Homo sapiens: one gene and its partners. The protein of the gene in region 1 purifies or fractionates together with the protein of each later gene. This does not show direct contact. Each region holds a gene or a part of one and is shown on either strand. Other genes may lie near its edges. The genes, in order: ZBTB48, SCAF1 and SRBD1.

Region 1 (3,745 bases):
TCTGAATCTTGGATTCAGAGGAAAGTGGCTGTGTTTGTGGGGAACTGGAAGCTCAGCTGGAAACACTGCCCTGGGGAAACACCTGTAACCCTGATGCTGCCCACTCCTCTCAGGAAGGTGGCAACCGTGAACAGCTGGGGCTTGCAGAAAGGTCAGCCTGAGGTCACCAGCTTCCTTTGGAGAAAGCCTGTTCCAAACCCACATTAACAGAGATTGTCTTAAGGTCCACATATTTTTTTTTTTTTTTTGAGACAGGATCTTGCTCTGTCGCCTAGGCTGGAGGGTAGTGGCACCATCTCAGCTCACTGCAACCTCCACTTCCTGGGCTCAAGTGATCCTCCCACCTCACCCTCCTGAGTAGCTAGGACTACAGGTGTGTGCCACCACACCCGGCTAATTTTTGTATAGTCTTTGTACAAATGAGGCCTCGCCATGTTGCCCAGGCTGGTCTCGAACTCCCAAGCTAAAGTGATCCACCCCCCTTGGCCTCCCAAAGTGCTAGGATTACAGGCGTGAGTGAGCCATCACACCCAGCCCAGGGTCCCTATTATACCAAAAAAGTGTCTATTCCCTCTATTTGTCTCCCCAGTCCCAACACCCTGGGCACAGTACCTCATTACTGCCGCCCTGCAGCTGGGCACCTTCAGCCTCTAAGGGCCTTGGGGGCACTTTGCAGTCCTCGGGTTTCTTGTCCTCAAGGGGACAAGGCTTCAAGGCCTGCTTCAGTTTCCCACAGAGGGAGGAGGGGCCCTCACTCTGAGCTGGGGAATGGAGCTGGGGCCTCTGAGGACTATGACTGCCTCTGGGCTCCTGATCCCTGGGGACTAGACCCAGAGTCCTCGAAACTTCCTCTTCTTCCAAGCCTGCCGGCTCCTTGACGTGGCTGTTCACATTCTGGGAGGCAGGGGGCCCCAGCCCACTCTGGCCACCTGCTGCCTGTCCCACTGAAGTTTTGGGCTTGAAGCTCTGGCACAGCTCTACGGCCTCTGGCACTCGCAACTCCCTGGCTGCCAGGAGCACCTGATCCCGGTTCCCTGAGGTGAGAGCGAGGTGACCAGTGTAGAAAAAGTCCAACAAGAGGCCAAAGATCTCAGCGAAGCCAGCAGGGAGGACGACACTGCCCCCTGAGCCATCCCCGTAGAGGCTCTGGAAAAAGTGACTGCAGCAGGCAAGGACACTCCAGTGTGCCTTAAACACCAGGCCCCCCACGTCCAGAGTGGCGTCGCAGTACTGGCCCTTCTCCCGCTGCTTGTTGAGCTCCTGCAGAACCCTCACACTGTGCTGGACGAAGGAGCCGTCCATGGTCTGGAGGGCAGGGAGGCAGAAGTGACACCCCGGCCAGCCTAAGCGAGGGTATGCAAGAGAAAGCTCCTGGAGTCAAGAGAGAGAAACGGGAAGTTGGCCTCTACTCAAATAATCATATTTATCAGCACGAGGGCTTGGGTCAGGGTGAGGGGTGCACGCGGAGGGCTGGAACACACTGACAGCCTCCCGGGGGCCGGGGGCCATATTGGATTGGCCAGGGGGGATGCTGGATGGGGGGCCAGGGTCGTGAAGAAGGGCCTGGTGAGAAAAATCCAAGTTTGGGGAAAGGAGACATGGGATGAGAGCGAACGGACTGGCCCGGCACAGTGAGAGGATCCCGGACGGCGGAGGGCGGCAGCCGGGGACAGGTGAGCGAAGCCCACGCCGCGCCCACAGGTCCCGAGCGGCCGAGCGGAAGGCAGCCACGGCGGCCCGCAGCCCCTCCCTCCCTCACCCCGCGCCCTCCTCACCCAGGCAGGTCCTCCCTGAGCTGGCCCCACTGGCCCCCTGCTCCGTCGCCTCCACAGCCCACGAACCTAGTGCCCGGCTATGCGTACCCCGCCGACAGTGCGGAGACTCCACCGTCTCCGCGCCGGACGTGACGTCAAAGCGTGCAGGCCAGGAGGTGCGCCTCGGAAGCGTAGAGCTTCTAGCTCCGGCCCCCGAGGGCGGGGCCCCGCAGAGAACGGCCAATGGGATGCGGGGACGACGCCTCGCCCTGTTCTTTTGGCGCTGGGCCCGCCTCCGGAGTTGCCTAGCAACGTCAATCTGGGCGGTCAGCCTTTTCCAGGCTCTGGGTTCAGACTTGAATCCGTTACACCTCACACTCTCCCACGACAGGAGACCAGATACGCATTTCACTTCTTTATTGGCAGCCCGGAGCCTGGTCTAGGCTCTCCCAGGCGCTTACACGTCCCAACCCCAGACCGCGATGCCCAAAGACCTCCCGGACACCCCCGGCCTGCTCGACCTTCGACCCTCAGGGCAGAGAAGGCTGCCAGCCGTGCCTGCTGACCCACTGGTCAGGTGGAGCCGCAGCGCCTCGTGTAGTCCTGAATGGAGGCCTGGAAGTGCTCTGTGCTGTTGAGGTCTGGGCGGCAGAGGATCACGTAGCACTTAGGCAGAAAATACCCACCGAAGCCGCTGCTCAGGCTGCTCAGCCCAGCCATCATGTTGGCCGCAGGCAGGTACTTGCCGTCGTAGACGCTGGCCGTGGTGAAGAAGGCGATCCAGGACACGAAGTTGAAGAGCAGGCTGAAGGTGACACATTTGGCCTCGTTGTAGTTCTCTGGCAAGTCCTTACCCAGGTAGCTGCAGGCAAAGGCACTGATGGAGAGGAGGCCATTGTAGAGGAAGGCCAGTATGAAGCCCAGGGAGTTGGTCTCTGTGCACTCAAGCATCACCAGATGGGGGAAGCGCTGGTATTCCCTAGCAGGCAGTGGGGTCCACACCACCAGCCAAGTTAGACAGATAAGCAGCTGGGCCGCTGAGCTGATCATCACAAACAGGCCAGCACCGTGGTTTTGGACCCAGGCGTGGTAGAATGTAGGTACCTTGGTGGAAAACTTGAAGATGATGATTAGTTGGAATGAGCGAACTGTCAGGCAGGACAGGAAGATGGTGAAACCAAGGGCAAAGAGGGCCTGGCGTAGCAAGCACGCAGGCCTTGTGGGTTCCCCAAAGAAGCCATAGAGGCTGCCACTACCTGCTGCCAGGGAGCCCAGCATAAGAAAGCACAGGCGGCCCCCTGCTGACCTCACCACAGGGGTGTCTAGGTGCCAGGCAAACAGGCCAGCAGTCCCAAGCAGCAGCAGCAGCAGCAGCGTGTTAGCTGCCAGCAGCACCCAAGAGGTGTGCTCACGCAAAGCCAAAAACACCACAGTGCGCGGGAAGCAGGTCTGGCTTCCCTCAGGTGCCCACTCTTCTTTCCCACAAGGCTGGCATCTGTAGAGGTCTGAAAGGGAAGGCCAAGAAGGTTCCTGAGAGCCAGATGAGCAGAGTAGGAATAGGAAATAGGGGCCTGCAAGATACTGGGAGAATTGTACCAGGGCAGCTAGACTATACTAGGCATAGTGGGATGGGGGTAGCCGGGAGTGGGGCCTGAGGCCACGCATTTCCTCAAAATGCCTGTGTTAATTACAGACTCTGGAGACACACAGGTCGGTTCTGTATGGCTCATGATCCCATGAGGGTTTTGCAAACCCTAGGGAGGACCTTAACCTGGTAGCTCTGCCCACATACCAGAGAGGTTACGATCTGATGGGAGCAGCCTGCTCCCAAGGGAGGGCATTGTAACCCCTCTCTCTTGCCAGCATTTCCATGAACCACTTTCCTGAGCTGCTGCTCTGTGGTTTCTCTGAGTCCTGACCCTCTGAGGACAGAAGGGAAGTATTCCTGTCCCTACAGAGATGGTGAAAGGAAAGAATGTGGCCCCTGGACA
Region 2 (3,745 bases), on another chromosome or scaffold:
CTCAGGAATTTGAGACCAGCCTGGGCAACATAGTGAGACCCCAACTCTACAAAAAATTAAGAAATGAGCTGGGCATGGTGGCGCGTGCCTGTAGTCCTAGCTACACAGGATGCTGACGTAGGAGGATCCCTTGAGCCCGAGAGATCAAGGCTGAGGCTACAGTGAGCTGTGACTGTGCCACTGCATGCCAGCTTGGGTGACAAAGCGAGACCCTGTCTCAAAAACCAACCAACCAAGGCCGGGCACGGTGGCTCACACCTGTAATCCCTGCACTTTGGGAGGCCGAGGCTGGCAGATCACCTGAGGTCAGGAGTCAAGACCAGCCTGGCCAACGTGGTGAAATGCCGTCTCTACTAAAAATACAAAAATTAGCTGGGTGTGGTGGCGGGTGCCTGTCATCCCAGCTACTCGGGAGGCTGAGGTAGGAGAATCACTTGAACCCTGGAGGCGGAGGCTGCAGTGAGCCGAGATGGCACCATTGCACTCCAGACCAGGTGACAGAGCAAGACTCCATCTCAAAGAAAAACAAAAACAAAAACCCACATCTAGACCTGACCAAGAGAGAAACAGCTCCAGAGCCCAGGAGTAGGAGCCGGCCAGAGCAGCTGAGTAAGAACCTACATTACTGTCTGCCTGGCACCCATTCTCCCCTGCTTCATCTACAAACAGGTTCTTGAGTTTTCATTCGGAAACCACCCTCCCCCACTCACAGAGACGGAGACAGCGCGAGCAACAGATAATCAAGGGGTGGGCTGCAGCGCGGGGCATCTCTTCCAGGGTGTGTATATGTGGTGTGTACGCACACAGCCCCACACACGCACAGACGCGATTTTCCTTTGGACACGCCTAACGCATTTCCTGCTCACCCATTCCAGCAAAGTGGAGTTCCTTATGGTTCCATGACTTTGGTCTCTACGGCCCTGTCTCCCTGCCTCAGTCTCCCTTTCTCCTTGGGCCCCCGCGTCTCAGTTCCTGTCCATATTCTCTACAGAACTGTCAGCACCGCCCCACCTCTCCCCAGGCCAGCTCACCTTATCTGTGTCCCCACGGCCCTCAGAGCTGCTGCTGCCCTCTCTCTTGTCAGACGTGGCAGCCAGCCCGGTGGGGGTGGGGGGGGTCGAACCGCAGCCCCCCAGAGGGAGGCTGCCAGGAAGCAGGTAGCTGGAGGGGCCAGGGGGCAGACCCAAAGAGGTGGGCACAGGAGCTGGGGTCATCCCCAGACTTGAGGGTGGCTTTCTGTGGCTGAGGATCTGTGGGACGAGGACAGAGGGGTGATGAGTAAAGGGAGGTGGAGGGGAAGAGGGGACGTGCACCCCACTGTTCCCACGCTGACTTCCCCACAGCTGAGGCAACAGGCTCCTCTTCAGGCCGATACCTTGCCCCAGAGCTGCCAGGCCCGCGGTTCCTCTCCTAACCCGAGGCAATGGACAAAAGAAGGGGCGGCAGGGACTCTCCCCCAGGGGAGCCCACCTGGTTGGTGGCCTGGATCAGCTCCTGGGCCTTCGCTCGGCTCGCCAGGTTGGCTTCTTCCATCTTGAAGAGAAGTGCAGTCACTGCAGGAGGCAGAGAGGTGACAACATGAAGATGGGAGAGGTGACAGGACAGGAGCTGGTGAACCTCACCTGGACACCTGCTGTCATCTCCTGCCCTTGGCCCCAGAACAGCCACAAAGCCTCACGCTCAGAACTGGGAAAAGGGGGCCTTGGCCAATGAGAGAACAGCCCATACCACGAATGTTCTTGGGACTCCAGGTGTGTGGGTGCGGGGTTGGCCAGGGTCATGCAGTGATGAGACAGTGGCAGGAGTGAGATTCTGCCTCCTGACCCGCTGTGGCCAGTCCCAACCTCTCTCCCCACCTCTGCAGTCTGGTAGAGGCAACCGCCATCCGTAAGGAATACGATGCCCTGCTCAAGCCATTCTTTCTGGTCCCTCTCTCCTACTCCCCGTCTAGGGGAATCCCAGAACCCAGCCCACCACTCCAGTCTGTGCTGGCCACCACCTGCTCTCACCGGCCCCTCTCTCCCAGTACACCCAGGCACCTAGAGCCTGGCTGGCCTTTACTCACCCCCACCCTCCCAGTCTATGTCCCTATAAACCTCTCCCTGCCAGGGCACCCCACTGCCTCTAAGTCTGTACCCTCCAGTCCCCATCCTGTCTCACCTGCCCCAGCACCACCCTCCCCCAGGGGACACTCACAGGCCAGGACGCCGCTGGTGGTGCAGTCCACACCAGCTGGCAGATTCCAGGGCATGGGCGGGGGCAACGTGGGCAGCTGGGAGACACGGGAAGCTGGCCCGTCCTCCGCCCCCGAGTCACCGGCTGTGGACCCCGCGCTGGGGGCAGTGCTTGGGGCGGCTGCAGCAGTGCTGGTGGCCGTGGTGGTAGCAGGCTGCTGCTCCTCCTCCTCTTCCTCTTCCTCCTCCTCTTCTTCTTCCTCCTCCTCCTCCTCCGCCCCACCTCGGACCCCAGCCTCCTCAGTGGCCTCCTCGGGCAGGAAGGAGACCTCAGGTGTCTTGCAGCTGCTGTCCACGGTCTGCGAGTCCGGAGTGAGGGCAGGGGGTGGTGGGGCTGCCTTGGGGGGCGGGGTGCTAGGAACCTTGGCTGCCCGCTCCTCCCCGGACCAGGAAGTCTCCTCCGCCCCCTTGGTGCCTGCCGCCTGGCTGCAGCTATCCGCCTTGGACTTCTTCAGCGACACCTGGCCACCACTGCCCCCGCTGCCACCTCCACTGCGGACCTTTTTCCTGGTCTTGGATGGCTTGGTCTTTCCCTTGGTCCCCTTGGTTTTCTTGGCCCCTGCCTTGGCCTTGACCTTGGTCTTTTTGGGCTTGGTGCTGCCCGGAGCTGCTTTGGCCATCTCAGTGGGGGCCCGCTCGTCAGGTTTGAGGAAGGGGGAGCGACTCTCGCGGTCACGGCTGAATTTGACGCCAATGGAGCCCAGGCCGGCTGACGCGGCATCCTTGGCCGGGGTGGTGCTGCTGACACCCTCGCGGATCAGCACCGCCACCTTGGACTGCAGCTTCACCTTCCGGGAAGAACAGGAGGACGACGAGGATGAAGAGCCTGAGCCGCTGCTGACTGGTGGCTTTGGCGGGGGCCCTGAGGAAGGCGCCGACTCCTTGGGGGGCCGGGCCTTCTTGGATGACCTGTCCCTGTCCCTATCTCTGTCCCTGTCCCGATCCCGGTCACCCCCGTCCAGCGCCTTCCGACGAGACCCCTTCTCCCGGGAAGAGGAGGAGGAGGAGGCGGCCCCCGAGCGGCGCCGATCCTTCTGGCTGCTCTTGCCGCCCCGCTCCTCGCCGCTCAGTCCCTCGGAGTCGTACAGGACCTCCCGCTTAGGTGAGGAGGCCGGAGCAGGAGAGGGTCCTCGGGGGTCGGACTTGTCAAGCCGGCCCACCGTGATGGTCCGCTTGATGGCGAAGAGGTCGTGGTCCGTGAGGTCCTGGATGGAGGGTGGCACGGCCCCCCGGCGGCGGCTGTCGCGGTCACCACACGAGGTGGAGCCAGAGGGCGGCGGGGCGGGCGCCGGGGCCTTCTCGCTGCCATCCCCAGACCGCTTCTCACCCCGGGACCGCGACCGCTTCTTCTTCTTCTTGCTGCCGCCACCGTCCCGGTGTTTCCCGCGGTGCCGCTCGCGCCTCGAGGACGACGATGAGGAAGTGGCCGGGGGCGGGGAGGCGGAGCGCCGCCGCCGTCGCCGCTTCTCCCGGGACCGCGACCTGCGGCTGCCCCCGCGGCGGCGGTCGGT
Region 3 (3,745 bases), on another chromosome or scaffold:
TTCTTACTACTCTCTGCCTCATGTCTCTAGACTGGCCACACTGGTCTTCTTGCTGTTCCCTGAACACACCAAACTTATTCCTGCCTCAGGGTCTTTGCACTTGCTGCTTTCTCTATTTGGAACACCCATCCCCAAGATCTTTGCAAGCTGCACCCCCAAATCTCATCTAGATCTCTTGCCACATCTTCCGCAATAACTTTCTGACTACTCTATCCAAAATGCCCCCCGACTGCAACCACTCACTATGCTCTCTATCCCCTGCCCTGTTTTATTTTTCTTTATAGTACTTATTACTATAAATATTACCAGTCATTTACTTAACAAATATCTTCAGAGCACCTAATATGACTCTAAAGCAGAGATTCTCAACTGGGGATATCTAGCAATGTCTAGAGACATTTTTAATTGTTATAACTTAGCAGGAAGCTATTGGCATCCAGTGGGTAGAGGCCAAGGATGCTGCTAAAAATCCTACAAGAAAAAAGATAGCCCCCACAACAAAGAATTGTCTTGCACACAATGTCAGTAGTGCAGAGGTTGAAAAATCCTGCTCTAAAGCAATATATAAAACTCTATGCTCTCATGGAGCTTATATTCTAGTGTAAGTATTATGTTACATATTTAGTTGGTTACTTTCTCTCTCCTTTCGATACTTTATTAGCAACACTAGACAGAACCTGGAACACAGCATGAGTTCAACAAATACTTGTTGCATGAATGAATAAAAAAAGTTTTTTCTACCCACATCACTTAAGGAGTTAGAAAGTGACAGAATGCATTACTCCTTATTAAAATATTCATCATTCCCCTACCCACATATTAAACCAGTATGCTTACAACTCAGAGAATGAAGAAAATTCATCTTTCAGTACCACATCCTGGACCTGTACTTTCGCTCTTCTTGGCAATGATGACATCTAGAAGAAACAGAAAATAAAATCAGCAACACTTGAATATTCTTATCACTTTATTTGGCTACAAGTAATGGGTCATTCAAAACTAACATTTCATAGGAAAAAAACAAAAACAATGATGTTTATTCACAAGCCCAAACATCAGTTTCCTCTGCTATGTAGCTGCCAATTAAAAGAGTAGCTGGCTGGGCACCATGGCTCATGCCTGTAATCCCAGCACTTTGGGAGGCCAAGGAGGGCGGATCACCTGAAGTCAGGAGTTCGAGACCAGCCTGGCCAACATGGTGAAACTCAGTCTCTACTAAAAATAGAAAAATTAGCCAGGTGTGGTCGTGGGCACCTGAAATCCCAGCTACTGGGGAGGCTGAGGCAGAAGAATCACTTGAACCCAGGAGGTGGAGGTTGCAGAGAGCTGAGATTGCATAATTGCACTCCAGCCTGGGCAACAGAGTGAGACTCGGTCTCAAAAAAAAAAAAAAAAGAAAAAAAAAGAGTAGCTAACAGCCTTCCAATGGTTTAAAACTCTTAAGAGTATGGGCCATCTTTTAAAAAATATAAACTCCTACAGGGTGACACCTGTAGGAAAACTGTGTGCTTCATTTTTTAAGAATTGTGTGCTTAAGTATTCTGTGTTATTTTATGGTAATAATATCAGGCAGCCCCTTACAAAGTCCTTTATTAAACTATATCTCAAAGACAGAAACATTTTTTTCCTATTCTTTTTTTTTTTTTTTTTTTGAGACAGAGTTTCGCTCTTGCTGTCCAAGCTGGAGTGCAATGGCACGATATTGGCTCACCACAACCTCCGCCTCCTGGGTTCAAGCGATTCTCCTGCCTCAGCCTCCCTAGTAGCTGGGATTACAGGCATGCGCCAACACACCCGGCTAATTTTGTATTTTTTAGTAGAGACAGCATTTCTCCATGTTGGTCAGGCTGGTCTTGAACTCCCGACCTCAGGTGATCCGCCCACCTCGGCCTCCCAAAGTGCTGGGATTACAGGCATGAGTCACTGTGCCCAGCCTATTCTATATATTCTTAATGAATAAAGTAGAGGTCTCTCTACAAAGTTGGCAATGAAATAAATGATGCTGATTGACTGAGTAAGCAGCCAGGTTATTCTTAAAACAAGATAATCATTCCCTTATAATAAAAGTTCATTAAACTTAAATAAAATGATTAATCACTATGTGACTAAAAACTATTTACCAAATTCGAAGGCCAAGCTGTAAAAAAAAGTTAAGACAAATAACCAGAGACATCACATAATACGGGAAAGTAAATAAAATTACTTTAGCTGTTAAGATTAATTAGCTGTTAAAATTAATTAATAAAGGACTTTATAAGTGGCTGCCTGATATTATTACCATAAAACCATCAAACTATAAGGACTACACTAGGCTCTGACATGTTTGGAACCCTTTAAACAAGTTTCTGACCCAGTCATATGTTATAATGCCTCTGGTTCTAACATCCGCTTAGAAGAGGAAATAATCTCTCATGGAAATACTAAAGGGGTTGTCACAAAAGGGAATATGTTCTCCCAGCAGCTATAGCTCAACTCAGTCCAGTAAGTACACAATGATTGGGCAAAATAGTGCTCAGAGGGAACCAAAAGAACAACAGGAAAGCAGTCTGCAGGAAGTAGACAGGATAATCTTCCATCTTTCCCTTCACTCTCTTTTTGGCATATTAGGTTATAAAGATCATCCTTTCTCAAATTAGTATTTTTTAGACATTGATCATGAAAGAACAGGTAATTGTGATTTTTATATTATGTGTATCTTACCACAACAAAATAAGAATGGAGGAAGTTAGTGTATGACAAGGGTGGCATTTAAAATCAGGGCAGGGTAAAAATGGATTATTCAATAAATGGTATTGAGACAACTAGCTATTCCTCTAGAAGAAAAAAAGGAGTTTAATTCCTACCTCCACACCATTAACAAAAATTTATTCCCCAATAACTAATAGTTTAAAATGTACAAATTAAAACTATAAAAGAACTAAGAAATAAAGGTGATTCTTTTCACACTATTGAGGGGAGATGGGGAAATGGAGGTTTTCCTAAATATGACTCCTCAAAATTCCAAAACCAAAAAGACTAACAAATTGCAACACATAAAAATTAAAATCCCAAGCCAGTAGTGGGAGCATATGAGAACCAAACCAATTTACCCTGCAGTATTCTAAAAAAAAAAAATTCATATGAAGCAGTAGCTGATACCTTTGGAATTAAAGGTGAAACGGGTTAGGGCTGTGTATAAACTGACAAAGGAATATCTCTAAGTGTCCTACCTCACTTCATGCTATTAGGCAACTGCCCCAGGAAAAAGACTGTAAGTTTATTCTCTGGAGAAGGTATTAATGAAACAGTCTAGACTGTGGGCATGGGAACCATACAGACTGAATGCTAAAGGCAGAGAACCCTAGTCTTCCGCCACTAAATTCCTAAAATACTGCCCTCTAGGGAGGAGAATGGGAAGGCTTTTCTCTGGAGAATCTAACCAGTCCAAGAGTAAAAACTTGAAGGTGCTAAGCTTCCCATCAAACAACCCACCCAGATCACCTTACAATCACTCCTACCACCACATTCTACAATATGCCTGAATTCAGAACATTCCCACACAGACTACCATATACTAATTCTATCTCCACACTTCAGCCTTAACAGAAATGTGTTTAAAATAGGGACAGGCAAACCCTTGGCAGGCTTATGTTTTTGCTTAACCATTATCCTTAAAGAAGGCTCCCCTAAATCAAATATTTCCAACTGCCTCTTTATAAGGCACCCCGAAAGCAATATACCATGGAAAGATGAGTGAGTTGTAATA

The links.
Region 2: the proteins of ZBTB48 (region 1) and SCAF1 purify together in Homo sapiens (affinity purification with mass spectrometry; 2 studies listed by BioGRID and IntAct, with this or other methods). This does not show direct contact.
Region 3: the proteins of ZBTB48 (region 1) and SRBD1 purify together in Homo sapiens (affinity purification with mass spectrometry; 2 studies listed by BioGRID and IntAct, with this or other methods). This does not show direct contact.

What each region holds. Positions count from the first base shown.
Region 1 is NC_000001.11:6,578,167-6,581,911, reverse strand, and holds the start of ZBTB48 (zinc finger and BTB domain-containing protein 48), read right to left. Parts: upstream 1,919-3,745; 5' UTR 1,776-1,918; exon of another isoform or gene 1,372-1,775; 5' UTR 1,303-1,371; coding exon 613-1,302; intron 1-612. Other genes in the region: TAS1R1 (taste receptor type 1 member 1 isoform b precursor), read right to left, coding at 2,328-3,259. UniProt on the Homo sapiens protein: Plays a critical role in transcriptional regulation and chromatin remodeling. Acts as a regulator of telomere length. Directly binds the telomeric double-stranded 5'-TTAGGG-3' repeat.
Region 2 is NC_000019.10:49,652,157-49,655,901, reverse strand, and holds part of SCAF1 (splicing factor, arginine/serine-rich 19), read right to left. Parts: coding exon 2,197-3,745; intron 1,554-2,196; coding exon 1,471-1,553; intron 1,251-1,470; coding exon 1,032-1,250; intron 1-1,031.
Region 3 is NC_000002.12:45,604,525-45,608,269, forward strand, and holds part of SRBD1 (S1 RNA-binding domain-containing protein 1), read right to left. Parts: intron 918-3,745; coding exon 838-917; intron 1-837.